Linked DNA regions of Homo sapiens. The protein of the gene in region 1 purifies or fractionates together with the protein of each later gene. This does not show direct contact. Each region holds a gene or a part of one and is shown in the gene's direction. Other genes may lie near its edges.

Region 1 (4,141 bases):
GAATGCCCCACAAGTGTTACCATGGCAAAACTGGAGAGTACACAGTGTTCCCCAGCATGCTGTTGGCATTGTTGTAAACAAACAAGGGCAAGATTCTTGCCAAGAGAATGAATGTGCATATTGAGCACAGTAAGTACTGTAAGAGCCGAGATAGCTTCCTGAAACGCATTGAGGAAAATGATGAGGAAAAGAAGGAAGCCAAAGAGAAAGGTACCTGGGTTCAACTGACGTGCCAGCCTGCTCCACCCAGAGAAGCGCACTGTGTGAGAACCAATGGGAAGGCTCCTGAGCTGTTGGAGCCTATTCCCTGTGAATTCATGGCATAATAGGTATAAACAAATAAAAGACTTCTGGACTGTAAAAAAAATAATAGTAACTAAATTTTTTTCAGGTTATATACCACCTTATAATGCTACAGTAGTTCAGAAGTTGTTGGATCAGGGAGCTCTACTAATGGGAAAAACAAATTTAGATGAGTTTGCTATGGGGTAAGTAAAATTGAAATCTTCTCTTGAGTTTCTTCTGTCTGTGCCTTTATTTTCACTAAATGTAGTTACCTAAAAGGATTGAGGATCTAATGCCAGTTTCTTAGTCCCTCTGTGAGATTATGTTATGTTGTTTAATAGATATATAGTCATCTCTAATTTTGCTTTTGGCTTGTATTTCCCTGATGACTAATAATGTTAAACATCTTTTCATGTGTTTATTTTGCCATCCCTATGTCTTCATCAGTGAAGTAGCTTTTCAAATTCTGTGCCCATTTTTTGAAATTGGGTCATCTTATTATTGAGTTGTAAGAATCCTTTCTGGCTCATGACTGTAATCGCAGCACTTTGGGAGTCCGAGGCAGGTGGATCAACTGAGGTAGGGAGTTCGAGGCCAACCTGACCAACATGGAGAAACCCCGTCTCTACTAAAAACACAAAAATTGCCTGGGTGTGGTGGCGCATGCCTGTAATCCCAGCTACTTGGGAGGCTGAGGCGGGAGAATCGCTTGAACCCGGGAGGCGGAGGTTGCAGTGAGCCGAGATCGCGCCATTGCACTCCAGCCTGGGCTACAAGAGTGCAACTCTGTCTCAAAAAAAAAAAAAAAGAATTCTTTCATATATTTTGGATTCAAATCCATTATCAGATAGGTGCTGATTTGCAAATATTTTCTTCAAGTCTCTGGTTTATCTTTTTATTCTCTGAACATGCCTTTCAAAGAGTAAAAGTTCTTAATTTTGATAAAGTCCAGTTTATCAATTTTTTTCTTTTTTCTCTTCTTTTCATTCTTTTTTTTTTTTGAGACAGAGTTTTGCTCTTGTCATCCACGCTGGAATGCAATGGTGCGATCTCGGCTCGCTGCAGCCTCCGCCTCCCAGCTTCAAGCGATTCTCCTGACTCAGCCTCCCAAGTAGCTGGGACTACAGGCATGCCCCACCATTCCCAGCTAAGTTTTGTATTTTTAGTAGAGATTGGGTGTCGCCATGTTGGCCAGGGTGCTCTTGAACTCCTGACCTCAGATGATCCACCTGCCTTGGCCTCTCAAAGTGCTGGGATTACAGGCATGTGCCACCACGCCCGGCCTTCTTTTCTTTCTTTCCTTTTGTTTTCTTCCTTTCATATAGACAGGGTCTCACTGGGTTTCCCAGGCTGATCTCAAACTCCTGGACTCAAACTGTGCTCCCAGCTTGGTCCAGCAAAGTGTTGGGAGGCAAAAGCAACTGTGCCAGGCCCATTTTTTCCTTTATTTTTTAAAGATGGGGTTTATCTGTGTTACCCAGGCTGGTCTTGAACTCCTGGCATCAAGTGATCCTCTGACCTCATCCTTCCGAGCAGCTGGGACTGCAAGCACACATCACCTCACCTGGCTGAATTTTTTTCTTTTATGATTCATGTGTCCTAAGAAATCTTTTTTGTTTGTTTGTTTGTTTTTTGTTTTTTGAAGCACAGTTGTGCTCTTGTTGCTCAGGCTGGAGTGCTTGGAGTGCAATGGCACGATCTCGGCTCACTACAACCTCCGCCTCCCAGGTTCAAGCGATTCTCCTGCCTCAGCCTCCCGAGTAGTTGGGATTACAGGCACGCACCACCGGGCCCAGCTAATTTTGTATTTTTAGTAGAGATGGGGTTTCACCGCGTTGGCCAGGCTGGTCTCAAACTCCTGACCTCAGGTGATCTGCCCGCCTGGTCTCCCAAAGTGCTGGGATCATAGACGTGAGCCATCGTGCCTGGCCAAGAAATCTTTACCTAACAAAGGTCACAAAGAATTTTTTCCTAGAAGTTTTATAGTCTTAGCTCTTACATTTAGATCTGTTATTCACTTCGAATTAGATTTTCGTATATAGTATGAATAAAGTCCATTTATTCAACATATGGATGTCCATTAACTCCAGCACTAATAATAAAAAAGATTATCCTTTTCTTGTTGAATGATCTTAGGTTTTTTTGTCAAGAATCAAGCACATTCAGTAGGTCTGTTTCTGGACTCTGTTGCATCTCTGTTTATTCCAGTGTCACACCATCTTGATTATTATAGCTTTATAGTAAGCCTTGAAATTATGTAGTAAGAGTCTTCTAACTTTGTTCTTCTTTTTCAAAATCATTTTACATAATCTAGATCTGTTATATTCTGATATGTTTTAGAATAAGCTTGCTAATTTCTACAAACAAGTTTAATGGGATTTTGATTGTGATTGTGTTGAATTTATAGATCAACTTGGAAAGAATCGGCATCATAATACATGTCTTCTCATACATTTTGTTTTACTCTGGAATGTTTTTATGATTTCCTGCATATAAATTGTACATATAATTTGATTTATTCGTGTGTTTTATGTTTCTTTTCTTTTTTTTTTTGAGACAGAATCTCACTCTGTCACCCAGACTGGAGTGCAATGGTGCAATCTCGGCTCACTGCAACCTCTGCCTCCTGGGTTCAAGAGATTCTCCTGCCTCAGCCTCCTGAGTAGCTGGGACTACAGGCACATGCCACCACGCCCGGCTAATTTTTGTATTTTTAGTAGAGACAGTGTTTCACCATATTGGCCAGGCTGGTCTCAAACTCCTGACCTTGTGATCCGCCCGCCTCGTCCTCCCAAAGTGTTGGGATTATAGGCGTGAGCCACCGCCCCCAGCCATGTTTCTTAATGCTATAGAAAATTGTATTTTTTTCAGTTTCTAATTGTTTATTGCTAGTACATTGAAACATAATTGATTTTTCTATATTGACCTTTTATCCCATGACCTTGTTAAAGCTTGCTTATTAGTTCTAGTTGATCTTTGTGGATTCTGTGGAATATTTTATGTAGCAAATTGTGTAGTCTACAAATAGAGTTAGTCTTATTTCTTCTTCTTGCCTTACTGCACCAGTGAGGGCCTTAGGTGCAATGTTGAATAGAAGTGGTGAGAGCAGATTTCCTTGCCTTGATCTTGATCTTAGGGAACAGCAGTCTTTCACCAAAAGTACTTTATACTTACCCTTTTATGACACTTGTCACATTTGTAATATTTGCTTGGTCATTGTTCTCTGTTTCATAGAAACAAGAGTCCTTGCGTGTATAGTTCAGAGTGGTATATCTTGGAATTCATTATATATATGTTGAATGAACTAATCCATGAGAGTATATTTGAACAAAGGCTTTCAGGAAATTGCCTTCATCAGCTGATCAAAATTAACATCACCAGTGAGGGTGAAGTGGACGTTATGTGCCTCCAGATGTAATTGTCTGAGGATACAATATCACCTATGTAATATTCCAGCTGAGAATGTGTAAGCTGACTCTAATAATGGGGAAACAAAAGATAAATCCAAAATGAGAACCATTCTATTAAAATATCATATGAAAACAAAAAAAGGGCTGTGAAAATCTTCCAGGATAAGAGATAAAGAAAGTAAAACCTAACATCATAAAACTCAAGAAAATGTAGGGGATGCTGGGCCTGGTGGCTCATGCCTGTTATCTCAGCACTGTGGGAAACTGAGGCAGTAGGATTGCTTGAGCCCAGGAGTCCTAGATCAGCCTGGGCAACATAGTGAGGCCCTGTCTCTACAGAAAAAAAAAATTAAAAAAAACAGGGAAAAGTATTAGTGACCTTGAATTAGTCAGAGTTCTTTTAGATAGGACACATGAAGCACAAATCCACTTAAAAAATTGATAGA
Region 2 (4,141 bases), on another chromosome or scaffold:
CCAGTAACATAGTTGTTCATTATTGTTTCAAGTATCATGTACTATATGTAATTGTATGTGCTATACTTTAATAGGACTGGCAGCACAGACGTTTTCTTTACACTAGCATTGCCACAAACATGTAGGTAATATGTTGCCCTACAATGTTAGGAGGACTACCGTGTCACTAGACAATAGGAATTTTTCAGCTCCATTATAATCTTAGGGACCGTCATCATATATGCAGTCCGTCATTGTCCAAAATATCGTTATGTGGTGCGTAACTGTATAAAGAAAATACAACTGTGTGCCCCATAGGGTTGTTGTGAAGATTAGATTCATCCAAGGCACCAGTTATAATAATACCTGGTATTTGGCATTTAGTGGTAGACTGCCAGTAAATGATAGATTACTTTAGTTTCTGTTAGAGAATTTAGAGAATCAGGAAACCTGAGTATATCTTAGAACTACATTTAGTGCTAAATTCTGTGACTTTGTTGTCTGCTCTTTTTCCTCTCAATTTACAGGCAGAGATCTGGCTCCACAAGGAGGCCCAGAAGGAGGGCTGGAGCAAAGCTGCCAAGCTCCAAGGGAGGAAGACCAAAGAAGGCCTGATTGGGCTGTTGCAGGAAGGAAACACAACTGTATTAGTAGAGGTGAGTTGTTGGAAATTCCAGATACCAAGAACAGCTGTCCCTTGGGTGTAAAGCTTGTAGTAGGCCCTAAAGGGGCCTGTTCTTGAAGAAGAGATCTGTTTAAGAACCATAAAGCGTAGTTGAAGTTAAACTCATGAAACCCTGGGTATTAGTTACGAATTCGTTTAAGTATAGAAATGTACTGGTGTGTTGATGAGAAATGGCCTGACAGTCTAGAATATTACTCCTGAATGTGAGTCTGGCACAGGCTTACACCTTGTCACTGATTGTTTCCTGGAACAGTTAGATTACAAGTTAATTATATTAATTGTTGCTGAATAGAGAGTAGGTATTTTAGAGGAGGTTTGGGGGCCATAATTGGTGAAGAGTCAGATGTGGATTAGTTTAGAGTGAGAGATGGGGATAAACAAGATAATAGCATAAGTGGTTTGGAGTTGGGATGGCTGGAGAATGAGGTGATGATGGTGTGCAGACATAGGTAAGTGGTGAACTTGTGGTGAGTCCTTCAGGACATTATTGAACCATCTTCTGAATATACAGGCTATTGCTAACTCACTGGCCCAACATAAATCACTTCATTCTGTTCCAGGCTAGGAGAGGAAGCGTAGCTTTAAAATTTTGGAGTCATTTTTTTTCCGTTGAGTCTGTAGCTTGTTCTATCAGTATCTTGATTTATTCTCCAGCCTTAAGGCACTTTTGGAAATTATCATTAAACAGCTTATACAGCTATATCAATTTGTTCCCACAGGTAAACTGTGAGACAGATTTTGTTTCTAGAAATTTAAAATTTCAACTGTTGGTCCAGCAAGTAGCCCTTGGAACCATGATGCATTGTCAGACCCTAAAGGATCAACCCTCTGCATACAGTAAAGTAAGTTTGGGATTTGTCTCCAGTGTGCTGAATTTGCTGTCCTCATTGGGTCTTTTGCTGTTCCTATTGTAGACATTCTCATGTCTCATTCTGTTACTTCACATCTCTGCTTAAATGCTATCTCTTTGCATAGAATTACCCTTCCCCCGTTGCTATATCCCCGTGTCATGCTGCATTTAAAATTTTTTATTATGGTGCTTATATATTACATTTTAATTTATCTGTGTGTTGTCTATCTTCCCCAGCAGAATGTAAGCTTTATGAGGCAGGGAATTTGTCTTTTCACTGTTGTATCTCTGGTGAAAGAGAATTGGGCCCACTACTTAGTTGGAGCTCAGTAAATCTTTGTCAGATGAATGAATGAATGATTGAATGCATGCATGCCAGTGAAATGGAGTTAGCCAGATCAAGTGAAGCCATTTGAGGCTTTGTGTTCAGAAATTTGGAATGGTCTTAGGAAAGAATTTCTAAATAAAGAGATTGGAGCCAGGTGTGGTGGCTCACCCCTGTAATCCCAGCACTTTGGGAGGCCGAGGCAGGCAGATCACCTGAAGTCGAGAGTTCAAGACCAGCCTGACCAACATGGAGAAACCCGTCTCTACTAAAAATACAAAATTAGCTGGGCGTGGTGGCGCTTGCCTGTAATCCCAGCTACTTGGGAAGTTGAAGCAGGAGAATCGCTTGAACCCGGGAGGTAGAGGCTGCAGTGAGCCGTTGTACTCCCCCCGGGCAATAAGAGCAAAACTCCGTCTCAGAAAAAAAAAAAGAGAGAGAGATTGGAAAAGACATGGTTTAGGAAAATAAGCATATTCTTATCCATAGAGGGATCAAGGAAAGGAATTATGTCATTCTGCCTTTGACTCAGCCTTATTGCCAAGGCAAAGATGAACCAACCACTCACAGTAATTTTTTTGAGTTTATTACCAACTTTTTTTATCTTCTTTATCCTTCTCTTGAGATGTCTTGGTAAATGTTAATTATTATTGGCATTACATAGTCATATGGAAAACAATGTTGAGATTATTTTTTTTAATTGTATTGAGTAGGTAAGTCACTTGAACTAGAAATTTTAGCTTTGATTTTGCCAGTAAACACCAGTGTACCCTTTTTTTTTTTATTTTTGTTTTTGTTTTTTGAGATGAAGTCTTGCTCTGTCACTCAGGCTGGAGTGCAGTGGTGCAATCTTGGCTCACTGCAACCTCCACCTCCTGGGTTCAAGCAATTCTGCATCAGACTCCCGAGTAGCTGGGACTACAGGCGCCCGCCACCACACACGCCTAGTATTTGTATTTTTTGTAAAGACAGAGTTTCACCATGTTGGCCAGGCTGGTCTTGAACTCCTGACCTCAAGTGATTCGCCCGCCTCCGCCTCCCAAAGTGCTGGGATTACAGGCGTGAGCCACCATGCCTGGCCCCAGTGTACTCTTTTTCCAGATTTGCCATTTATTAACATTTTGCTGTATTTGCTTTATCACTTCTTTTTTTCTTTAAGAGACAGATCTGGCTTTCTTGCCCAGCCTGGAGTGCAGTGGCACAATCATTGTTCACTGCTGCCTCAAATTCCTGGGCTCAAGTGATCTTCCCACCTCAGACTCCTGAGTAGCTGGGACTACATGTGCACACCACTATGCTAGGCTCATTTTTAAGTTTTTTGTAGAGACAGTCTTGCCATCTTGCCCAGGCTGGTCTCAAACCTCTGGGCTCAAGAAATCCACCTGCTTTGGCCTCCCAAAGTGTTGGGATTATAGGCTTGGGTCACTACAGCTGGCCCTATCACTTTTTATATACATGTTATCATCGCCCTTTTTTTTTTTTTTTTTTGAGATGGAGTCTCTCTGTCACCCAGGCTGGAGTGCAATGGTGCCATCTCGCTCACTGCAACCTCTCCCTCCCAGTTCAAGCGATTCTTCCACCTCAGCCTCCCAAGTAGCTGGGATTACAGGCACCTGCCATCATGCCCGGCTAATTTTTTTTGTATTTTTGTAGAGACGGGAGTTTCACCATGTTGGCCAGGCTGGTCTTGACTCCTGACCTCAGGTGATCTGCCCACCTGGGCCTCCCAAAGTGCTGGGATTACAGGCGTGAGCCACTGCACCCGGTCATCATCACTGTTTAAAAAAAATCTTTTTGTAAGTATGTTGCAGACATCAGGATCCTTTATTCCTTCAGCATGTATCTCGTAAAAACAAGGACATTGTTATATAACCACAGGACAGTGATCACATTTAGGATTTTTTTTTCTTTGAGACGGAGTGCAGTGTTGTGATCTCAGCTCACTGCAACCTTCACCTCCTGGGTTCGAGCAATTCTTATGCTTCAGCCTCCTGAGTAGCTAGGATTATAGGCATGCATTACTACTTCCAGCTAATTTTTTTGTGTTTTTAGTAGAAATGGGGTTTTGCCATGTTGGTCAGGCTGGTCTCGCACTCCTGACCTCAGGTGATCTGCCCGCCTTGGCCTCCCAGAGTGCTGGGATTACAGGCGTGAGCCACCGCACCCAGCCAAAATGTGTTAGTTTTAGTAGTTGTCATTCTACTGTTAGAAATAAATTTCCCTTCTCATTTTTATTTAGTGATTTATTCAGCACTAACATTGACTCGTGGGTTCTTATTTTATACAATAAGTTATAACTCAT
Region 3 (4,141 bases), on another chromosome or scaffold:
GCCCGGCCTGTATGCATCCTTCTTTAAAGATTGTCCTTTTGGATTCATTTTGTTTCATAAGGCTTCATCAATTTGTATTAAGACCATAACTTTCTCTTAAAAGGTTGTTTTGTTTCATTATAGTTTTATGAACAAAGAACAAACACAGCTTCTTCAAATTTTAGGAGAGTCTGCAAGCCATGAAAGCCATGAAAAAGTGTTGGGTTTTGGAATATTAATGGAGTTTTAGAGATCTGGTATATCAATCCTTTCCTAAAGTAATAAATAGGAAAAGTTAACTTTATCTTTAAATCACAGAATTATAACTTAAAGTTTTTATGTTACCTTTACAGAAAAAGATGCTATGGACGTATGGTGCAATGGTAAAAAATTGGAGACAGCGGTAAGTTGACTATTTGATGACTCTAAGTGCCATGTGTCTCAGTTACCATTGAATTGTTGCTGCATTTCCTAATTATAGAGATCTTATAATGAATCAAGGCCCTCTTGATAAAAACAAAAAAGGGATTAAGTACTCCTGACTTCAGATTCTGAAAACCTTTGCCAGATGGTGCCTGGTACCGTGAGTTTGGAAACAACTCATGTTCTTAGCTGGCACTAGCTTCATACTCTCCCTTTCCTGTCCTGGACCAGGCTCCAGCATAGCAAGTAAAATACCTAAAAAGAGCCCCTAGTTAAAAAATTATATCCCCAGAGGTTGGTGTCCTCTTGTGTTGATCCATTTGAAGTGGTGCGTTATCACTGCTTCTCAAACTTGCATGCACAGAAATTGCCTGGAATCTTGTTAAAATGCTAATTCTAACATTTCCCTAGGTGCTGCTAATGCTACTGGTCCACAGATCACACTTTAGGAATGCTTTACACCATACACTCAAAGCAGATGGTTCTTTTCTGAAAGCGAGATTTTTGTAAAATGAGTGATACAATATCAGATGACACGAAGGTAGACGAACAGGAAAGGGCACTCTCACGAACCCCGGAGGACAAGTGGAATTTTAGACCAGCAGTGCCAATGCGAGGAGAAAGAGGCTCCCCCAGTCACTGTGGCCAGGCACACTGAAATCCCCATCTAGATAGACTCCAGTGTGTTTGACTTTTGCTATCAGGTGCTTGGATTACTATGGCTGTGGATGGGATGAATGTAGGAGTGAATTTCAAGCAGGAGTGAAACAGTAGTAGTGTGCACAGGGGAGAGAGTGGGAAACAGAAAGTGTGGGACTAGGAGCCGAAATCACTGGGTGGTAATCCCCATGTCTTATGGGGTCTGTGGGCCAAGCAGGGAGTGCTATCCCTGGGACCCACCTTTCATGCTGGCTCCAGATGTGAACATCAGGGCTAGAGATAATCGGAAGCTCTCTTCTCTGGTCACATTTTGCATGTTGTAGTTGCTTTTATCTCATTTGTATAGTATAGGTTTAAGACAGTGAGAAAAGGTGATTTTGGTAGTTGGAGGAAAGGAGGTCTGGGATTAATTCATTCAGAAGACCACCTAGAACCTACTTGGTCTGATAGCTGTTTCTGAGGAGGTGACAAAACCAGAAATCAAAAATTACAAAGATGAAGCCACACGTGGTAGCACAGGTCTGTAGTGGCTTCCTACTTGGGAGGCTGACGTGAGAGGGACCCTTGAGCCTAGGAGTTTTAGGCCAGCCTGAGCAACATAGTGAGACCCATCTCTAAAAAAATTAATCAATCAATTGAAATTTAAAAGTTACGAAGATGAATGCTTTTCTGTTTCTGAGTCCTGAAGAATTTAATTTGGGCTCACTCTAAATTGAGTGCTTGAGCTGTTCTCTGGGTTAAATCTACTGATAGAGACTTCTTTTATGCAGAGAGGCTTGGAGAGTGCTTCAGTATTTTATGGCCCCCTTTGGAAAAACTCCAGTTACCACTAACATGGATCAGATACCTACTGTGTGCCCAATGCCATACCTGGTGGTTCTTCCTGTTCTTTTTTTCCTACCCTGGAATTCTCTAGATAGGGAATCAGCACTTTTGAATTGCATTTCCTCCCATATTCAAGAAATTCTCCAGTGCACATGTAAAGAGAATGCTGTTTTATGGTATTAAGAATATGGTTGTACTGGGCGAGGTGACTCATGCATGTAATCCCAGCACTTTGGGAGGCTGAGGCGGGCAGATTGCTTGAACCTAGGAGTTAGAGACTAGTCTGGGTGACATGGCGAAACCCCTCTCTACTAAAAATACAAAAATTAATAGAGCATGGTGGCACATGCCTATAGTCCCAGCTACTCAGGAGGCTGAGGTGGAAGAATTACCTGAGCCCAGGGAGATTGAGGCTGCAGTGAGCCAAGGTTGCACCACGGCACTCCAGCCTCGGTAACAGAATGTGAGACCCTGTCTCAAAAAAAAAAAAAAAAATGCAGTTGTAACTTTGGGAGGCCAAGATGGGAGGATCATTTGAGGCCAGGAGCTCATGACCATCCTGGGCAACATGATGAGGCCCTATCTCTATAAATTTTTTTTTTTAAGTTAGCTGTGTATGGTGGTGTGTACCTGGTCCCCGCTGCTCAGGAGGCTGAGGCAGGAGGACTGCTTGAGCCCAGGAGTTCAAGGCTGCAATGAACTACAGTTGTACCCCTGTACTCCAGCCTGGGTGGCAAGAGCAAGACCCTGTCACACACATACACAAGGAATGTTGTTGTGGTTGTAAAAAGGTGAAAATAATATTCATCCACATGTCTTTGTTTTGTAGTAATTAACAGGAAACTACATGTGTTTGGAAATAGCTCTTTATAACACAGTTGCCTTCTCATTGTAACTACAACCTAGTTTGCAGGGCAGTTTGGGCAGCCCCATATCTAGGCAGCCTTCCCCAGTACTGTACGTACCCACAACAAACTCATCTTGTTGCCTGTGAGTTACAGCTTATTTTCTCCTTTTTATCTCAAAGCATCGTGCCAAAATTATATATTTGTCCAATTGCCAAGAAGCTACGTATATAGATTGTATTACCTAACCCTTGCCCTTTCTTCCGAAGTCTTTTTTCAAGGCTCAATATTAAAAATGGGGACAAGAACACACTGCACCCAAGGACATGCTTGTGGTATTCAGCATACCTCCCATAAGGAGCCACGGGCCACATCCTTCCCAGAGCTAGGAAAAGGCTTCTCTCCCTGAGGCATCCTGTGCCTTCTTTGGCTTGGTTTGTTAACTGGGGGGCCTTGTTCTATCTACTTTGGCTGCCAGGAAGCTAATAGCCAGGGGGTTTAAGTCTGATTTTTGGTTTCTTTGCTTTCTGGCATAAATCTTTTTTTTATCCTCTAAGCCTCTTCTTTCTTCCTTCCTTCTCTGCGCTACCTGGCGCTAATCTTTTTACTCTAGATCACTGCTACTCAATCAAAGCATAATATGAGGCACAGATAGGACCTTCATGTGTAATTTTAATTTATCTAGTATCCATATTTGAAAAAATTTTAGGTGAAGTTAAATATTATATTTGATTTAAATCAATATACCAAAAATAGTATTTAACATGTAATCAGTATAAAAAGTTATTTTATACATTTTTTTGTTTCATACTAGGTCTTCTAAATCCAGTGTCTATTTTATATTTAAACAGCATATCTATTTTCAGACTAGTCAATTTGAAGTGCCCAATAGCCACATGTGGCCAGTGGCTACTGTATTGAACAGAACAGGTATAGATTTAGTGGTGTTTGGTTTTGTTATATGTATATTTTACTGTAAGCCACCTTATACCCAGAGGAATCAGATTTTCAGAGTGGCTAAGAACACTCCATCCCTGGCTGGATGCAGTGGCTCACACCTGTAATCCCAGCACTGTGGGAGGCTAAGGTGGGTAGATCACTTGAGGTATATTATAAATAACTAATAAATGTCATATTTATCATTTTTATTTTTGAAAACATAGACACATAGTCATGAGGTTTATATTCCTCCCCCAAGAATTTAAGATTCTTAAGGATTGTAGGGGTTATGAAAAGGAAACTTTCAATTCATAACAGAAATGTAAAAGCATCTAAGTACAAGCTTTAGACTTTGTTTTTCAAAGCTTATTGTTTAACTAATACATTATTTTATTGCACTACTAGTACTTTTAGATGGTGTGAATGCTCTAGACAGAGATAAAAGTTTCTGCACCACTAATTCCTTCTTC
Region 4 (4,891 bases), on another chromosome or scaffold:
TTCTCATTTAAGAAATACTTCCAATATTCTGAGACACTCTGGTTTAAGAAAAAGTGACATAACATAGCATGATGTATATGGGTGTACTATTTAGGGCCCAGCCTAGAATCAGAAAATATTGGGTCTGAATCCCACCTGAGCCAATGGTAACGTCTGTGACATTGGGCAAATTACTTAGCTCTGTAAGAGTCAAGGGTTTTTTTGTTTGTCTTTGATTTTTTTTTGTTTTTTATTTTATTTCATTTTATTGACATTGGGCTGAGATGAGAACTAAACGGAAAAAATGATGTAAAATGTCTAGCTCAGTGCCTGACTTATCATAAGCCCTAGAAAGCTTTCATGAGAATATTATATAACATATGGAATCTACATACTGTATGCAATCTATACTATATTATGTATATTTAGTGTGTATTGCATATAACATAATCTATAGTGTATGCTGTAACATATATACCATACAATGTATATATAAATATGTACAAGATTCATAAAGTTTAGTATATATCAATAGCTATTATTTTTATTAACATAAACAGTCATTAGCCCCTCCAGACAAATCAGAAATGATGGTGTTAAAGCTTAAGTTGGACTGCAAAAGATTTTTAAGAAACAAACTAGAGGCTTACAAAAGAATTTACCAGGGAAGGATTTGCCAACACTTGGGGCAAAAATGACTGAGACACGTAATTGAAAAGCAGGGCGAGGAAACAGAATGTCCCTCCCCTCCTCCCTGGCTGGTGGTAGTTTTGTATTGGATCAGGTTGAAAGGATTCGAGCCACTTTAAAACAATCAACAAAAATCTCCAACTTCCGTTCCTGAATTAGCAAAGCGAGTTCTACTCTTGCCAGCCGCGGTAACTCTAGAAATTGTGTATGTTTGTCACTGGACCTGCCTAGGACGCACCTTGGGGGAGAGGGGGAGTACTGGGGGCGGTGGTTTCAAGCTCTGTGTGCCCCTCCTTTGCACAAGGTAGTCGGTGTAGAAGAACAGAGGCGGGCAGTGGACATAGGGGAGGTGGCCCAGCCTGAATTCAAGCATCGTTGGTGCAAGCCACGCTCTCAAGGCGCATTTCCTAACTTCCTAAAGAAGTAACAACAGCAACTAACTTTTATTGACTGTTGACTATAGACAAGGCTTCGTTGTTGCCGCTTTACGTGCATTAATTCATTTAATCTGCAAAACAACCAAACATGAAACAGCAGGAAGGAAATTCTACAAACTCCCCTTCTTGCTCAAGTTAAGAAAGTCTCCTCTTCTGGTGCATTTCAGTAAGACTCAAATCCTCCCCACCCTGGGAGGCGCAGAAAGCCAAACTTCCTCCAAAAAAAAAAAGGCAAAAAAAAAAAAAAAATCACTTCAGTCCAGGCTGGGGGTATCTGGCTCCCCGGGAGGCGCCCGGGCTCCCCGGGGCCCTGGCAGACGCCGGCAGCTTTTCTGGGCCCGCACTCGGGGACCTCGCCCGCCCGGCATCGCGATTGTGCAAGCGCCGGGCGGCAACCACGGCCGCCGCTGCCGGCTCCTGCCCGCCGGGGGAGGGCGGGGAGGCGCGTTCGAAGCACACCCGGTGAACTCCGGGCTTCGCATGACTTCCTGGGGGTTATCTCCGGGGTGGAGTCTGCCGCCCCCACCCCACCTCCCGCGCCCAGCGAACATAGCCCCGGTCACCCCAGGCCCGGACGCCCTCGCTCACCTCGCTGACTCCATCCTCCTTCCACCCCCCCTCCCCTGGGTCCCGCGTCCCTCGGAGTCTGGCCAGCCGGGGGCCACTCCGCCCTCCTCTGCGTGCTCATTGGCCACCCAGGGCATGCTCTGTCTCCATAAATGCATGGTCCCTGGGCATAGGAACATGGAGAGGGACAGGAGGAAACGCAGCGCCAGCAGCATCTCATCTACCCTCCTTGACACCTCCCCGTGGCTCCAGCCAGACCCTAGAGGTCAGCCTTGCGGACCAACAGGAGGACTCCCAGCTTTCCCTTTTCAAGAGGTCCCCAGACACCGGCCACCCTCTTCCAGCCCCTGCGGCCAGTGCAAGGAGGCACCAATGCTCTGAGGCTGTCGCGTGGTGCAGCGTCGAGCATCCTCGCCGAGGTCCTTTCTGCTGCCTGTCCCGCCTCACCCCGCTCCATCACACCAGCTGGCCCTCTTTGCTTCCTTTTCCCAGAATCGTTAAGCCCCGACTCCCACTAGCACCTCGTACCAACCTCGCCCCACCCCATCCTCCTGCCTTCCCGCGCTCCGGTGTCCCCCGCTGCCATGAGCTCCCCCATCAGCAAGAGCCGCTCGCTTGCCGCCTTCCTGCAGCAGCTGCGCAGTCCGAGGCAGCCCCCGAGACTGGTGACATCTACGGCGTACACGTCCCCTCAGCCGCGAGAGGTGCCAGTCTGCCCGCTGACAGCTGGTGGCGAGACTCAGAACGCGGCCGCCCTGCCGGGCCCCACCAGCTGGCCACTGCTGGGCAGCCTGCTGCAGATTCTCTGGAAAGGGGGTCTCAAGAAACAGCACGACACCCTGGTAAACCCCTTTTCGCGCCCCTGACTCTCTCCTCCCTCTTCCGCCCTCCCAGTGGCGCTCCAAACCCTCCCCGACATGCGCGCCTCGGGCGCATGGTGCGCTTCGGCGTCTGGGCAGGGAGGGTCCCCGGTCCCCTAGGAGGAAGGAGGCGGGAGGAGGGAAAGCGCTTCGGGCACGGCGGAGGATGCGCGCTGACACCGCGCTGTGCCCGGCCGGCTGCAGGTGGAGTACCACAAGAAGTATGGCAAGATTTTCCGCATGAAGTTGGGTTCCTTTGAGTCGGTGCACCTGGGCTCGCCATGCCTGCTGGAAGCGCTGTACCGCACCGAGAGCGCGTACCCGCAGCGGCTGGAGATCAAACCGTGGAAGGCCTATCGCGACTACCGCAAAGAAGGCTACGGGCTGCTGATCCTGTGAGTCCAATCCGAGGGACCTGGGCATGCGGCCAGACCTGATGAGCCTGACGGCGCCTGGAAATTGTGAAGAGGCGGAGTTAGAGTTCCCTGGGGTTGGAAGCTTCTTACGTAGGGCGGATACCAAAGCCCCTCTCCCGTGCCATCGCAACCCTGAGCTCTTGTACAGATTAGAGTCGGTCCACGGAAAAGCCGTGCTGTGCACCCAGCACCTGCGTTCTCTCTGGCAACAGGGCAGGGCCACACCCTCCCATCAAAGAAACGCCAAAACAGGGTTGTACCAACTGTGGTGTTCAGACTCTTGGGCAGGATGAGGTTCTGAAGTCAGCGTACCAGGCAAACATCTTATACAAACAAAATTATCCCTTAAAACTCCCTGAAACACCTTGTAAGCTCAAAAGCGAGGAGTTAGCCTCTTTGGCTTTTTACAGTGACATTTTCTGCAGAGGATTGGGGGACATGCCTTATTTCTACTTGTAAAGGTGGAATAAGGAGGGATATCAAAGTTGTGTTTTAGGTCGACAAATGCTACTATGGGATGTGATTCTTCTGCTTTTTAGTTGTTAGCATTTAACAAGTTAGCACCTTTATTTACCCCCAAACTGTAATGCCTAATCGTTATATTTTCCAGGATATAATGACTGGAATTAAAAACCCTATTAATTCACGGTGCTTCACAGGCTGTATGGTCTGCTATGGGGCAGGTGCCTACAAGTGCACGATCGCAAAAGGCTTTTTATTACTCCAGTGACTCTCTGACTGTATGTTATTATTTGGAGGCGATGGCAAAATTCTAAATCTGAGATATTTTGTAAATATGAAGCCCACACCAATGAGTTGAAAGAAGACAAGATTCTTCCCTCAAACAGATCTGAGTTGCTGGTGATGGGGTGTTCACATGCCCCCTTTTACCGCTAGGAATTGTCCCCAGGCCTCCCAGCCCCACTCCCTGCAAGGACACCTCAAAATCCCTGAACCCAAATTATCTGGACTTCAACTTTTTGGTGCAATCTTTGACTAGGAGGAAAGGTGCTTTTTCATCCTATTGTCAAACTATTGTCAAAAGATGATCACTATTTTATCCCAAATATTCTGATGCTAATATTCTCTGGCTATTTCTTGGCATGATTCTCAGTGTTTGTTTGATTTTATGGTTCCTGAAGTTGCAGCTGGAGTATTTCTGCATCTCCTTCTTTTCTTTTCAGTGTGCTCTAAATGTATTCCTGCTTCTCTCACAGGGAAGGGGAAGACTGGCAGCGGGTCCGGAGTGCCTTTCAAAAGAAACTAATGAAACCAGGGGAAGTGATGAAGCTGGACAACAAAATCAATGAGGTCTGCAGGCTGGGGCCAGCTTTCCTGGGGCTCGTGGGGACATAGGGATATTGGTGGAGCTTCAAGTCACAGCTACAAAGAACAAAGGAAAAAAGAATGCAATTCGGGTGATTCAAAGTGGGGGTCTTCTCTTTCTCTCCATTCCTTCCTACAGCCTCCTCCCCACCAAACCCTTATTTCTCCCTCCTCCACCCTCTTTTAAAGTCATATCACAATGAGGGAGCAATGGAGAGTGTGGACTTTGGTATTCTACAGCCCTGGATTTGAACCCCAGCTTTCCACTCCCTGGCTATGAGACCTGGCTATATACCACTTACCTTCCCTAAGCCTCAGTTTCCCCATCTACAAAATGGGAGTAACAGTTCCCACCCCACGGGTTTGCTGTGAGAATTAAATGAGATAACATTGTAAAGTTCTTAAGTAGTGATATTTGAGCTGGGTTTTGCAGGAGGAGTCTGAAAGCAGAGAAAGTGGGGGAAGGCATTAAGGCAGACAGAGTAGCCTTCTGAAAACAGGGAGGCATGAAATGACGTGGTGTGTTCAGAGAATCGGTCATTTAGTGTAGCTGATGTGAGGCTTTCTCTGAAATGATACTGGATAGGTCTTAACAATATTTTTGTATTATACTAAG
Region 5 (4,141 bases), on another chromosome or scaffold:
GAAAGTAATAGTAAAAGGCTGTACTACTTCCTTCTTGTGATATTTGAAATGAAGAAAAATTATGACCATATAAGCTGAAAGCCTAATTATAGAATTTGTGTGAGGGAGCTCAATCATGTTAAATCCTATATAAATTAAGGTTATATTTTATAGTTGCCTGTCTGTGCCTTTTCACCTTTAAGTCATTTGCTAGTAAGAGAAATGCTTAAGAAAGGTGAGTAAACAGATGTATTTATAAAAATAGTTATTAATTACTGATATCTCTCAGTGAGGTACATAGCTTTCACATAGAGATACTGTTAGTACAGTTTTACCCTGAAATCTACTCAGGTGCAAAATTGCTTTGGTTATGAAACACATTACTTGTGAGTCATCACTGCACTTAGTGATTTTCTGACCCCCTACAACGTAGTAGAAGCAAAATGTTAATGTACCTTGACTTCCATTTGGGAGTGTCCTCTGCTTGATATGTTAAATTCATTATAAAGAAATGTTTATAGTAAAAGCATTACTTTCGAAACATAGAACTGTAGATGTTGCATAATGAATAAAACTGATAGCTTTCAGGATTAAGAAATATATTTTTGCCTATTTATTTCTGGTACAGGCTTCTAAAAAAGATTTTTAAAATTGTCTTCTTGATGAGGATATTTTGAGTGACATAGACCCGTCCTTCAATTCTTGATGGTAAACTTTCTGAAGAGCAATTTTTAAGCTCTATGAGGAACTTACAAAGTATTCATACCTTTTTAGGAATCTAAGTTCACAAAATAAACTGAAGTGTTAGAAAGATTTATTTCCTATTATTTTTGGTACAGTGTTATGCATACTAGAGAAAAATGGAGAAAAACGCATGTTCAACATTAGTGGGATAGTTAAGTAAATTGTGGTACATTCATATGAGGGTCTCTTATTTAGTCATTTAAAATGTTTGCAGGTACTTTTTAGGATATAAGGTAATGTTATAACGGCCAAAAGTTAGAATACAGAATTTTCTATGCAGTATGATCTCAAGCTATTTAAAAAGCTCAGAAAAAGTAATAGAAGGAAATAAGCCAAAATGACATTAGCAGTTGTGGTTTATGAGAACGAGCATTGTTTTTCCTGCCTCCTTTTGTTACTTTTAAGATTTCCCCCCCATTATAAGTGGGAAACGTCTAAAACAGTAAAAAACATTCCATAGTTTTGAAAATCAAAGGAACCACATCTGTTAAGTTTTGAACTTGTAAATCTCTACTGTCTACTCTTCTAATATCCTGATTCTGGTTGTATAAGAACAGTAAGCACCATTACATTGAAAGAAAAGTATGAAAATAGGTTATGTATGAATTTGCACAGCTCCTGTTTATCAGCATTGTCTAATCATATTCACTGGTACCCTTAAACATCAAACTTTAAAAATTTAAAACTATGCTTGATATATCTCCCTAGTAAATGTTACATATTTCTCTGCCATATTAAAACATTGTAATCAATAGAGTTTAACATTTCTTGTTCAACTTATGTGTATTTTAAGGATGCATTATTATACTGCACTGTAATACAGTGATGCTGTAAGACAAGTGCTGGCACACTTTCCCTGAAAGGCCAAATAGTAAATATTTTCAGCTTTTGGGGTTCTCTAGTCACTACTACAACTTCTCAGTTCAGTGGTGGTAGCAAAATAGCTGCAAACAATAGGTAAATAGATGTGGCAGTCTTCCAATAAAACTTTATTTACAAAAAGAGGAGGTCCCTGCTGTAGTTTGCGTAGCCCTACACTAAAATATATTTATTGGTAAGTTCTCTCATGCCTTGATTGGTTCTGCTTTAACCAGTACTCTTAAGGGTGGGTTTGTTCTTTTGTGGATTTTTGTATCTTGTATCAGTTGACTGTTCTTCATGTCTCTACTTTAGCTATCCTCCTTCACTCTTACCTTCTGTATCCAGTTCTGCTTAGCTTTTTCAAAAAATTGTGGTTAAATATACATAACATAAAAATTACCACTTTAACCATTTTTAAGTTCCCTAGTTCAGTGGCATTAAATACTTCTGTTAGTTTTAGAACCCAGATGAATATGCTAATGTGTAAAATAAAAGTATGTAAGTTGTGAGTGAATAAAGTTTATGATCTCACTTTAGTGTAGTGATTTGGAGGACATCTATTTTTAGCAACTCAAAAACTGAGAATTAAGCTTGGAAGTAACTTTAAAGAACATTTAATTCCAGCTCATTTTACGTATTATATAAGCTGCCCGCAGATATTAAATGACCTAAACAAGTTCAGACAGTATTAGGACTTGTTTTGATTTTTTATTTTTCATCTATTAGCAGCAAACTAATTCAATTTATAGAGTTAATTTTTTTAGATTGAGGATTATAAGAGATCTTACAAACCCTTCTCCCCAGCTGCTGCTTTCTTCTCTTCTGTTACATACTCCCTATAGGTTGTTGTTATTCATCTCTACCTGAATACTGCCTTCACAAGGGAGTTCACTCCCTTAGAAGGCAGCCCATTCCGTTTTCATAGCTGTTTCATTTTTCCTTATGTGTGGCTGAAGTTTTTCATTAACTTCTACCTATATATGTTAGTTATTCTGAACAAGTTGTCTATAGTGGTATCAGAGTGATTGCAGTGACAGAATTCATATAGTATCTGTATTATTCCATCTAGACTGATATATTAAAGGATACTTGGCTGAAGAAATGAGTTATTGGAAAAACTAACAGAGTTGGATGTTATAGACTTGATCTCCCCAGATCCTAGTCTTCCCACCCGAGACAGCCAGACTGCCTTTTGGGTCAAACTTCTGAAGTTGTGCAAACGTATGGACAAATTACCATGAGCTGACAGGGGCAGCCTGACCATTTCCTCACATAAAGTGGCTTTTGTGCTTTTTACTTTGGTGTGCTATTAAATGAATTTGTGCTATAAAGTCCAGTCAAAACAGCAGCACTAATTGAATATAATCTCATCTTTGCTTTGACAGGATGCAGTTTTATCAAGGCAGACCAGTTTAGTTCTCTTATGTGCATTTTGGTTAGAAATTTATTATTGTTTAAGAATTACAGATATTATTCCTAAAATAGAGTGCTAACCACTGAGAGCATGAGGTGGCAGAGCAGGAAGAGTCTGGAACTGGGAACAAAGGATGAGCTTTGTAGGACTAATTCTGGTCCAGCCACTTAAGATTTATGTGACATTGGACATTCTGCTTGACTTGGATACTCTTAAAACAAAATTTTTTTTAAATTTAAAATTTAAATTAACATTTTCTTTCTTTTTTTAGAAATGGAATCTTGCTGTGTCACCCAGGCTGGAGTACATTGGTGCCATTATAGCTCACTGCAGCCTTGAACTCCTGGGCTCAAGCAGTCCTCTTGCCTCAGTCTCCCAAGTAGCTGGGACTGTAGGTGCATGCCACCACACTCTTCTAGGACTCTCTTTTATCTGTACACTGGGGACAATTAACCCACCTTAATTTACCTCATAGGGTTTTAATATGATAGAAAGTGAGAGTCCTTTTTTAGCAGTAAAGCCTTAAAAGATGTAAGTTTTTATTTTTAAATTCAACCAATGATTAGCCTTGGGGCAAAATCACTTGGATGATAACTAGAATTTGTCAATTTGTTAGACTTAACATTCATTCTCATATGCTATTTTACTATATGGTCAGCCACCATCAATTCAACTTTCTATCTAACAGGTTTATTAATCTGCCAGTTTGCTGGTGTTGATAGACGGTTGTTATCAGTCAGCTCACTATAAATTCAAAATGATACACTGATTTTAAAACAACCCTGAATTATCATCTGAAGGATCATTATTCTTAAATGAAGGCATAAAGACTAGCAAATCCTTTTGTATTGTGTTATTATTAGGCCTCATTTTTTTTAATCCCACTTGAAAAGACAGTTTTTCATTGTCTCATAGGTTTACCATACTATACTATGTGTTTTAAGAGTTATGCGAAAAAAAAAATAAGAAAGACTTGACCCCAGCCTTGAAGCTTTATAGTTTGGGGAGGTTAGGTAATATGAAATGTTATTTAACAAAATAAGACCATACAGTTGGTTTCAATTATTTTCCTCTGTTCATTTTGTAGTTCTTAGTAAGGATTTTTTTTTTATTTTCTTCCTTTCATTTGATAGTTTTTTATTT
Region 6 (4,141 bases), on another chromosome or scaffold:
CTCTGGATTAGCTGCCCCAGTATGGCTTTGTACGTTTATTTTATTTTGCTGGGGATGTCATAACAAAATACCACAGACTGGATGGCTTAAGCCACAGAAATTTATTTTCTCAAATCTGGAAGCCAGAAGTCTGAAATGAGGGTGTTAGCAGATTTACTTTCTCCTGAGATCTCTTTTTTGTCTTGCAGATGGCTGCCTTCTCTGTGTCTTCCCTCTGTGTGTGTGTCCTCATCTCCTCCTCTTACAAGAACGCCAGTCATGTTGGATTAGGGCCCACCCTAATGACTTCATCTTACGTTAATTACCTCTTTAACTTCATTATCCTGTCTCCAGGTGCAGTCACATTTGAGGTTTTGGGGTTAGGGCTTCAACATATTAATTTTGTGTGTTTTGTGCGGGCACAGTTCAGCCTATAACAACATCCTTATTCTTCAGTTCATCTGCTCTACCTTTACCTCCTCCAGTGACTTTCCTAAGACTGTTTGATTTCCATGTATCAATTCACTTGTCTTTACCTCAGATTATTCTGTCTACTCATTACAGTAATCCAGAGAAGAATTTTTCTTCTTTTATCTTTCAAACATGAACAGATTTTCTTTTTATTTATTTATTTATTTATTTATTGATCATTCTTGGGTGTTTCTCGCAGAGGGGGATTTGGCAGGGTCACAGGACAATAGTGGAGGGAAGGTCAGCAGATAAACAAGTGAACAAAGGTCTCTGGTTTTCCTAGGCAGAGGACCCTGCGGCCTTCCGCAGTGTTTGTGTCCCTGGGTACTTGAGATTAGGGAGTGGTGATGACTCTGAACGAGCATGCTGCCTTCAAGCGTCTGTTTAACAAAGCACATCTTGCACCGCCCTTAATCCATTTAACCCTGAGTGGACACAGCACATGTTTCAGAGAGCACAGGGTTGGGGGTAAGGTCACAGATCAACAGGATCCCAAGGCAGAAGAATTTTTCTTAGTACAGAACAAAATTAAAAGTCTCCCATGTCTACCTCTTTCTACACAGACACGGCAACCATCCGATTTCTCAATCTTTTCCCCACCTTTCCCCCCTTTCTATTCCACAAAACCACCATTGTCATCATGGCCCATTCTCAATGAGCTGTTGGGTACACCTCCCAGACGGGGTGGTGGCCGGGCAGAGGGGCTCCTCACTTCCCAGTAGGGGCGGCCGGGCAGAGGCGCCCCTCACCTCCTGGATGGGGCGGCTGGCCGGGCGGGGGGCTGACCCCCCCAACCTCCCTCCCAGACGGGGCGGCTGGCCGGGCCGAGGAGCTCCTCACTTCCCAGTAGGGGCGGCCGGGCAGAGGCGCCCCTCACCTCCTGGACGGGGCGGCTGGCCGGGCGGGGGGCTGACCCCCCCACCTCCCTCCCGGAGGGGGTGGCTGGCCGGGCGGTGGGGCTGACCCCCCCACCTCCCTCCTGGACGGGGCGGCTGGCTGGGCGGGGGGCTGACCCCCCTACCTCCCTCCCGGACGGGGCGGCTGGCTGGGCAGAGGGGCTCCTCACTTCCCAGTAGGGGCGGCCGGGCAGAGGCGCCCCTCACCTCCCGGATGGGGCGGCTGGCCGGGCGGGGGGCTGACCCCCCCCACCTCCCTCCCGGACGGGGCGGCTGGCCAGGCGGGGGGCTGACCCCCCCCACCTCCCTCCCGGACGGGGCGGCTGGCCGGGCAGAGGGGCTCCTCACTTCCCAGTAGGGGCGGCCGGGCAGAGGCGCCCCTCACCTCCCAGATGGGGCGCTGGCCGGGCGGGGGGCTGACCCCCCAACCTCCCGGACGGGGCGGCTGGCTGGGCAGGGGGCTGACCCCCCCACCTCCCTCCCGGACGGGGCGGCTGGCCAGGCAGAGGGGCTCCTCACTTCCCAGTAGGGGCGGCCGGGCAGAGGCGCCCCTCGCCTCCCGGACGGGGCGGCTGGCCGGGCGGGGGGCTGATCCCCCCACCTCCCTCCCGGACGGGGCGGCTGGCCAGGCGGGGGGCTGACCCCCCCATCTCCCTCCTGGACGGGGTGGCTGCCCGGCAGAGATGCTCCTCACTTCCCAGACGGGGTGGCTGCCGGGCGGAGGGGCTCCTCACTTCTCAGACGGGGCGGCTGCTGGGCGGAGGGGCTCCTCACTTCTCAGACAGGGCGGTTGCCAGGCAGAGGGTCTCCTCACTTCTCAGATGGTGCGGCCGGGCAGAGACGCTCCTCACATCCCGGACGGGGCGACAGGGCAGAGGCGCTCCCCACATCTCAGATGATGGGCGGCCGGGCAGAGACGCTCCTCACTTCCTAGATGGGATGGCGGCCGGGAAGAGGCGCTCCTCACTTCCTAGATGGGATGGCGGCTGGGCAGAGACGCTCCTCACTTTCCAGACTGGGCAGCCAGGCAGAGGGGCTCCTCACATCCCAGACGATGGGCGGCCAGGCAGAGACGCTCCTCACTTCCCAGACGGGGTGGGGCCGGGCAGAGGCTGCAATCTCGGCACTTTGGGAGGCCAAGGCAGGCTGCTGGGAGGTGGATGTTGTAGCAAGTCGAGATCACGCCACTGCACTCCAGCCTGGGCACCATTGAGCAATGAGTGAAGGAGACTCCGTCTGCAATCCCGGCACCTCGGGAGGCCGAGGCTGGCAGATCACTCGCGGTTAGGAGCTGGAGACCAGCCCGGCCAACACAGCGAAACCCCGTCTCCACCCAAAAAATACGAAAACCAGTCAGGCGTGGCGGCGCGCGCCTGCAATCGCAGGCACTCGGCAGGCTGAGGCAGGAGAATCAGGCAGGGAGGTTGCAGTGAGCCGAGATGGCAGCAGTACAGTCCAGCTTCGGCTCGGCATCAGAGGGAGACCGTGGAAAGAGGGGAGAGGGGAGAGGGAGAGCCAGATTTTCTTTTTTATAAGGATTTTTGATTTAGATAAGGATGTGGTACCACTTGCAGAACTAGGGAAAGGAATTAATGTTGGGGAAAAAAGTTACCCCAGCCAGGTGCGATGGTGCACGCCTGTAATCCCAGCACTTTAGGAGGCCAAGGTGGGCAGATCACTTGAGCCTAGGAGTTCAAGACCAGCTTGGGCAACATGCCCAATGTGGTGAAACCCCGTCTCTACAAAAAATACAAAAATTAGCTGGGTATGGTGGCGTGTGCTTGTAGTCCTAGCTACTCGGGTGGCTGAGGTGGGAGGATCACCTGAGCCTGGGAGGTAGAGTTGCCGTGAGCTGTGATGGCACAACTGCACTCTAGCCTGGGTGACAGAGCCTCAAAAAAAAAAAAAAAGTTATGCCATCTTTTTCCATTTTTGGCCTCCGTATACAGTTGTTTATCCCAGTCTGGTTACTCTTGCCTTTGATATCTGTCACAGATTTCTTGCCTCTTCTCTGTTCTTACTGCCGCCCCTGAATGTGGGACCTCTTTTACCTCATTGATCTACCTGCCCACATTCCTCCTCTGCTGCTCTGCTTTCTTCCTTATGTATTCCACTTAGAATCTGTATTAGTCCATTCTCATGCTGCTGTAAAGAACTGCCCCAGACTGAGTAATTCATAAAGAAAAGAGGTTTAATTTACTCACAGGTCCACAGAGATGGGGAGGCCTCTGGAAACTTAGAATTATGGTGGAAGGGGTAGCAGGCACATTCTTCTCCACATAGTGGCAGGAAGGAGGAGAATGAGAGCCAAGCAAAGGGGAAGCCCCTTACCATCGGCTGTCATGAGAACTCACTATCACGAGAACAGCGTGAGGGTAACTGCTTCCATGATTAAATTACCTCCCAACAGGTCCCTCCCGAAACACATAGGGATTATGGGAACTACAGTTCAAGATGAGATTTGGGTGGGGACACAGCCAAACCATATCAGTATCCTCTAGATTAATTTTCATAAAATGTACTTTTCCTTACATTTCTTTCCTACTCAGGATCATTTATTGACTTAGTGTGACTCACTGAATTCTGCCTATCTTTTGGGACTCTATATGAACATTCCCCAGCAGCTTCCGTTAACTGTGTGACTGTACTTTTCCTTTCTGTGTGCCATGTTCACTTCTGCTTCCTTTCGTTGTCTGTCTTTTTGCCAGCCTGAATTCCGCATCCTCCTGTATACCTGTTCTGTTAGTGGCTATCTCCCTCTATCTGTGGAGATCATTTGCTCCCTGTTACCTCTA
Region 7 (4,141 bases), on another chromosome or scaffold:
GTGAGACTGTAAGGAGTTTTAAATTTTAAAACTTGCTACTCATAATTAGATATTCAAGTTTCTGAAATTCGCATAGTGCATTTCAGATGATGAGAGAGGTGACAGCCGTAGAAAGTGGGAGAAGTGGTTGCGGGGAGATGGGTGAGCGATGGAGGTGGCGAGCAAGTTGGAGAGATGCAGGGAGAGTCAGGTGACAAGAAGAGAGTGTGCTGAGGACAGATGGCGGACAGACAGGCCGCTGCCCCCAATTTTTGGTGCTCTTTCATTCCTGCACTCAGGCACGAGGCAGACAGGAAAGACAGGCAGTGCTGCTTCGTAACAGGCATCTTTCTTGCCCTAAGTATACATCTTAGAATGTGTGGAGAAAGTCACGCTATGGGAGCACTTGGGCAGGCTCAGGTGTTCACTGTAGTAGAAGGAGAATGACTCTAGCTGATGTTGGGACCCTTTGCTGTCACCCCGCAGTCCCCACAGTGCCCGGTGTGAGTTGTAAGAAAATGGTGGTCAGTGATTGTCTTCGCATTTTATATACGCACAGGTCAAAGAGAATGAACTCTAAATGTTTCCCAGTTTGATTTTTCTGCTTCTGTTTAGCCACATGAAATGAAGATCACCTCTGCCTATCTACAGGACATTGAGAATGCCTATAAGAAAACCTTTCTCCCTGAGATGAGGTGAGCCAAACACACGACTGATTTACAGGGCTAAAACTTCTTCGCCACTCGTTTCTTAGGCCCCAACAGCCCAGGGAGTTTTCTGTCTTATTTACTGCAGTGGATATTGTCTGAGATGTTTAATCTGATGTTTATAAATAAGAAAAACAGGAGACATTTCAGTTTGATTTTTGTGGGGTTTATTGGTTTATTTGTTTTGGTTTGCTTATCTTGTCAGTACTTTTGCTCTGCTATATTTCTGAAGTTTTTTGATGCTAGAAGTAAACCAAGCTCTATTCCATGACAGGTTTTACCATAGAGAACTTGTGTATTTTTACTTCAGGTGGCAACTAAACATTCGTGTTTACCTAGAAGGATTGATTGGAAGTGTATTCATGGAGAAAATTCATGAAAGATAACACTTTCTCTAGACATTCTTAATTGATGTCCTTGAGAGATGTTTGGATTAGATGAAGGAAACACCACCAGACTGTTTTTCTTTCTTTTCCCCCTTTCTTTCTTTGTTGAAAGCACATGGAAAATGTGGTTTCACTCATCCTATGGCTTGTCATTCTGCGCTCCTTGGGTATATTCGTGTGTAAGGAATGTCTGCCACACTCATTCACGTCCAGTTAAACTCAGATTGTTTGAATAATGCTTGAATTGAAGATTTTTATACTATTTCTCATACTTTTTAAAACCCTAAGCCTCTTTCGGTGCCTAAAAATCTCATGTTCTTGTTGTTTAAAATTTCAAAGTAACTGAAGTTGTGAATAAAAACAAAAGTATAGCAATTTTAGAAAAAAAGTTTTATTTTTACATTTATTTTAGTTAAATACTGAATATTTACAATGAACAGCCTTAGAAGATAATATTGTTAGACCATAGGTAATAATAAAATCAAAAGTGAATAAGAGAAATGTTCTATTCAGGGAGTTTTTTCTGTACCGTAAGTATTAACGTTTATGTCATCTCTGCTTGTTTGTGGTGAGCGTTTCTTTCTTAGGTGGTAAGAAGACTGGGTGGCCTCTGGCTTCCTTTTAACCTGTTGTACTGCCCTATTTCCAAGGCCACAATACCAAGGGAAGTATCTAGAGCCAACGTGAATAAACAGCATAAACAGAGATAGTTGACCCTAGAGTTTCAGGCTCAAAAATTACTCTTGGAGATCTTCTGGCTTCAAAAACATCACTGAGAAAGAGCTTTGTCATAATTTCTCAAATGGAGTTTCTAGCTACAACATCAGCAAAATAATGGCTGGTTTCAGCCTGTGCACAGGGCAAGAGTTTCTTTTACTTTGCCGCCCTCATAGACTCGTTAAGCCTCAAGCATTTATTTCTTACCACTTGGTCTTGCTGTGTTTTTAACTCCTGTTTTAGGAACAGATACAGTCTCTGTTCATTGTTAAAGTAGATCTTATCTGACAGCTCAAGCCGTATGGATTGATGGGAGCCACTTGATGTAGGGGTCATTTGTCACACATTGAAGAATGAGTACCAGATGTACTCTATGCAGTATGCATTATTTTAAGTGCTGAATTGTAGACCAAGATCAAACTGCAGCTTTGTGATGGACTTGGATCTTAAAAGTTTTCTCATAGAAATTCACTATGAAATTTGGCTGAAACTATTTTTTGTAAAATTGCAAGAAACCTATGACGAGTTGTATTTTAAAATTTATTGGCCATTAGCATTTTAGAATTCAGGAGTTATTTTCCAACAGAAACAATATTAGGTTTCCCGGGCTTGTATATTTAAACCATTGTTTAGTTAAATACTGAATATTTTTATTGTTAGATCTTAGGTTAGACCTTAGAAGACAATATTGTTAGATCATAGATAATTAATAAACAGTAAAATCAAAACTAAATAAGAGAAATGTTTTTAGTTTTAATACTAGTATTTGAAATAAAGCAGATTGACCTGACAAGATGATGGCTCCGTTGAAGTTCTGTGTCTCCTGTCTTTGAGCAGTTCCTCCTGTGTTAGCCCTTCTCTCTGTCACGTGCTGATACATGGTGATGCTTCACTGTTTTTGTATTTGTTGCTTATGAATGCATAAAGAGCATTGCAGCCTTTTCCAAAATATTTGTATTGTGGGATTTTAAGAGGTACAATGAGCTAACTCTCATAGGAATGTGTATTTTCTGGCTTTGTCAATATTTATGACCCAGATCTTAGGCGTACATGTCTTTCTCCTCATTACCTTAATTGTGAATGTGTTAATGAGTATCAACTTAGTTTCACCAACATTTGGCCATTCCCGCGTTCAACATATACTTATTTACTCAGCTCCAACACTGCTAGCTCCCAGTGTCAGTGTTAGCTGAGACACAGAGGTACACAAGACAGAGTAGGGAAGGCCTTTCTGAGAAAGAATCGTCACCTCTGAGATTTCAGAGACAAGAAGAGGAGCACTGAGTGACCAGCCTGACATGTAGCGAGTTTTGTAACTGTCTTTATTGTTTCAGATTGTTCTAAGGTGGGTGAGGAGCTGGGGAGGCTCTGGAAGTATTGAAATAACTTGGGGGTTCAGTAATACAGCTTGTGGCTCTCCTCGGCCCTGAGCTACCTATAGGAATAACCACCATTGAGGTTGCACGTGAACTGCTGGCCCAGCCCTTTATGGGGGTTTCCTCCAGATCCCTGACTCCACACTTGATACCTTCTTATTTTAGGCCTCCTTTCACAAGGCAGTGGGAATGAGAGGCAGGTGTGACTGGACGGAGGCGGTTTTATTTGTCTGTTGCCGAGGTTGTTAGCATGCTGAATGGAGGCGCACAGAAGATAGAAAATGGACTCTCCAGGTTGCTCTCATCAGGTAGTTTGGGGTCTGGAGCTCATTAAGGGCAGGAGCCCTGTCTTCCCCACCTTCCATACCCCACACAGCACCTGGCTCCTGGTGGGGCTTCAGCTAATGTCTGTTCAGTTATGTGTGTTGAACGAAACTGTCACATCGTCCTGATCTCTCATGACCACTCTTGTGCAAATATGTCAAATAGTTTGTGACCTTTCATATTGCTGTGTGAGAACAAATAATGTTTCTGTGCCAGCCCTGTTCATCAGGGATGTTTAAGACCTCTGTCTCCTATACACTTCAGTTGAATATTCACTTAGGTGACTTGCAGAGGGAATTATTCTCCTTTGTCACTTTGTGCCTTTCTCTTCGTATTAACAATGGGTAGCTGTAGAGGTTCAGGAAGCAATACAGCAAGTCCTGTAATTAGTGTGGCCTTTTCCTTGCCAGCCCTAATGGCAAATGCAGTAAGTTACTTTCCTCACTATGGATTTATTGTTCATTCTGCTTGCAGTTTCTGACCATTTATGTTGATCTTAAGGGTGCTGTGAGGAGTGCAGTGATCTCGTTGCAGTAAGAATCTGTTATCCAGTTGTATGACTCTGAATTGTGAGTTATAGACTTGTGTGGAACAGATGTGTTACTGAGTGATTGTAGAGCTTGAAGACTTTTTTCTTTTTCCTACACTTTGG

Evidence for each region.
Region 2: the proteins of QRSL1 (region 1) and TSFM purify together in Homo sapiens (affinity purification with mass spectrometry; one large-scale study listed by BioGRID and IntAct). This does not show direct contact.
Region 3: the proteins of QRSL1 (region 1) and FAIM fractionate together in Homo sapiens (co-fractionation; one large-scale study listed by BioGRID). This does not show direct contact.
Region 4: the proteins of QRSL1 (region 1) and CYP24A1 purify together in Homo sapiens (affinity purification with mass spectrometry; one large-scale study listed by BioGRID and IntAct). This does not show direct contact.
Region 5: the proteins of QRSL1 (region 1) and GLS purify together in Homo sapiens (affinity purification with mass spectrometry; one large-scale study listed by BioGRID and IntAct). This does not show direct contact.
Region 6: the proteins of QRSL1 (region 1) and SPECC1L purify together in Homo sapiens (affinity purification with mass spectrometry; one large-scale study listed by BioGRID and IntAct). This does not show direct contact.
Region 7: the proteins of QRSL1 (region 1) and NDUFA10 purify together in Homo sapiens (affinity purification with mass spectrometry; one large-scale study listed by BioGRID and IntAct). This does not show direct contact.

What each region holds. Positions count from the first base shown.
Region 1 is NC_000006.12:106,642,603-106,646,743, forward strand, and holds part of QRSL1 (glutamyl-tRNA(Gln) amidotransferase subunit A, mitochondrial), read left to right. Parts: intron 1-391; coding exon 392-488; intron 489-4,141. UniProt on the Homo sapiens protein: Allows the formation of correctly charged Gln-tRNA(Gln) through the transamidation of misacylated Glu-tRNA(Gln) in the mitochondria. The reaction takes place in the presence of glutamine and ATP through an activated gamma-phospho-Glu-tRNA(Gln).
Region 2 is NC_000012.12:57,785,657-57,789,797, forward strand, and holds part of TSFM (elongation factor Ts, mitochondrial isoform 2 precursor), read left to right. Parts: intron 1-506; coding exon 507-635; intron 636-1,383; coding exon 1,384-1,506; intron 1,507-4,141. UniProt on the Homo sapiens protein: Associates with the EF-Tu.GDP complex and induces the exchange of GDP to GTP. It remains bound to the aminoacyl-tRNA.EF-Tu.GTP complex up to the GTP hydrolysis stage on the ribosome.
Region 3 is NC_000003.12:138,628,775-138,632,915, forward strand, and holds part of FAIM (fas apoptotic inhibitory molecule 1), read left to right. Parts: intron 1-332; coding exon 333-382; intron 383-4,141. UniProt on the Homo sapiens protein: Plays a role as an inducible effector molecule that mediates Fas resistance produced by surface Ig engagement in B cells.
Region 4 is NC_000020.11:54,170,946-54,175,836, reverse strand, and holds the start of CYP24A1 (1,25-dihydroxyvitamin D(3) 24-hydroxylase, mitochondrial isoform 1 precursor), read left to right. Parts: upstream 1-1,850; 5' UTR 1,851-2,257; coding exon 2,258-2,515; intron 2,516-2,737; coding exon 2,738-2,928; intron 2,929-4,166; coding exon 4,167-4,260; intron 4,261-4,891.
Region 5 is NC_000002.12:190,886,934-190,891,074, forward strand, and holds part of GLS (glutaminase kidney isoform, mitochondrial isoform 1 precursor), read left to right. Parts: intron 1-4,141. UniProt on the Homo sapiens protein: Catalyzes the first reaction in the primary pathway for the renal catabolism of glutamine. Plays a role in maintaining acid-base homeostasis. Regulates the levels of the neurotransmitter glutamate, the main excitatory neurotransmitter in the brain.
Region 6 is NC_000022.11:24,315,677-24,319,817, forward strand, and holds part of SPECC1L (cytospin-A), read left to right. Parts: intron 1-4,141. UniProt on the Homo sapiens protein: Involved in cytokinesis and spindle organization. May play a role in actin cytoskeleton organization and microtubule stabilization and hence required for proper cell adhesion and migration.
Region 7 is NC_000002.12:240,008,150-240,012,290, reverse strand, and holds part of NDUFA10 (NADH dehydrogenase [ubiquinone] 1 alpha subcomplex subunit 10, mitochondrial isoform 1 precursor), read left to right. Parts: exon of another isoform or gene 1-594; coding exon 595-674; intron 675-4,141. UniProt on the Homo sapiens protein: Accessory subunit of the mitochondrial membrane respiratory chain NADH dehydrogenase (Complex I), that is believed not to be involved in catalysis. Complex I functions in the transfer of electrons from NADH to the respiratory chain.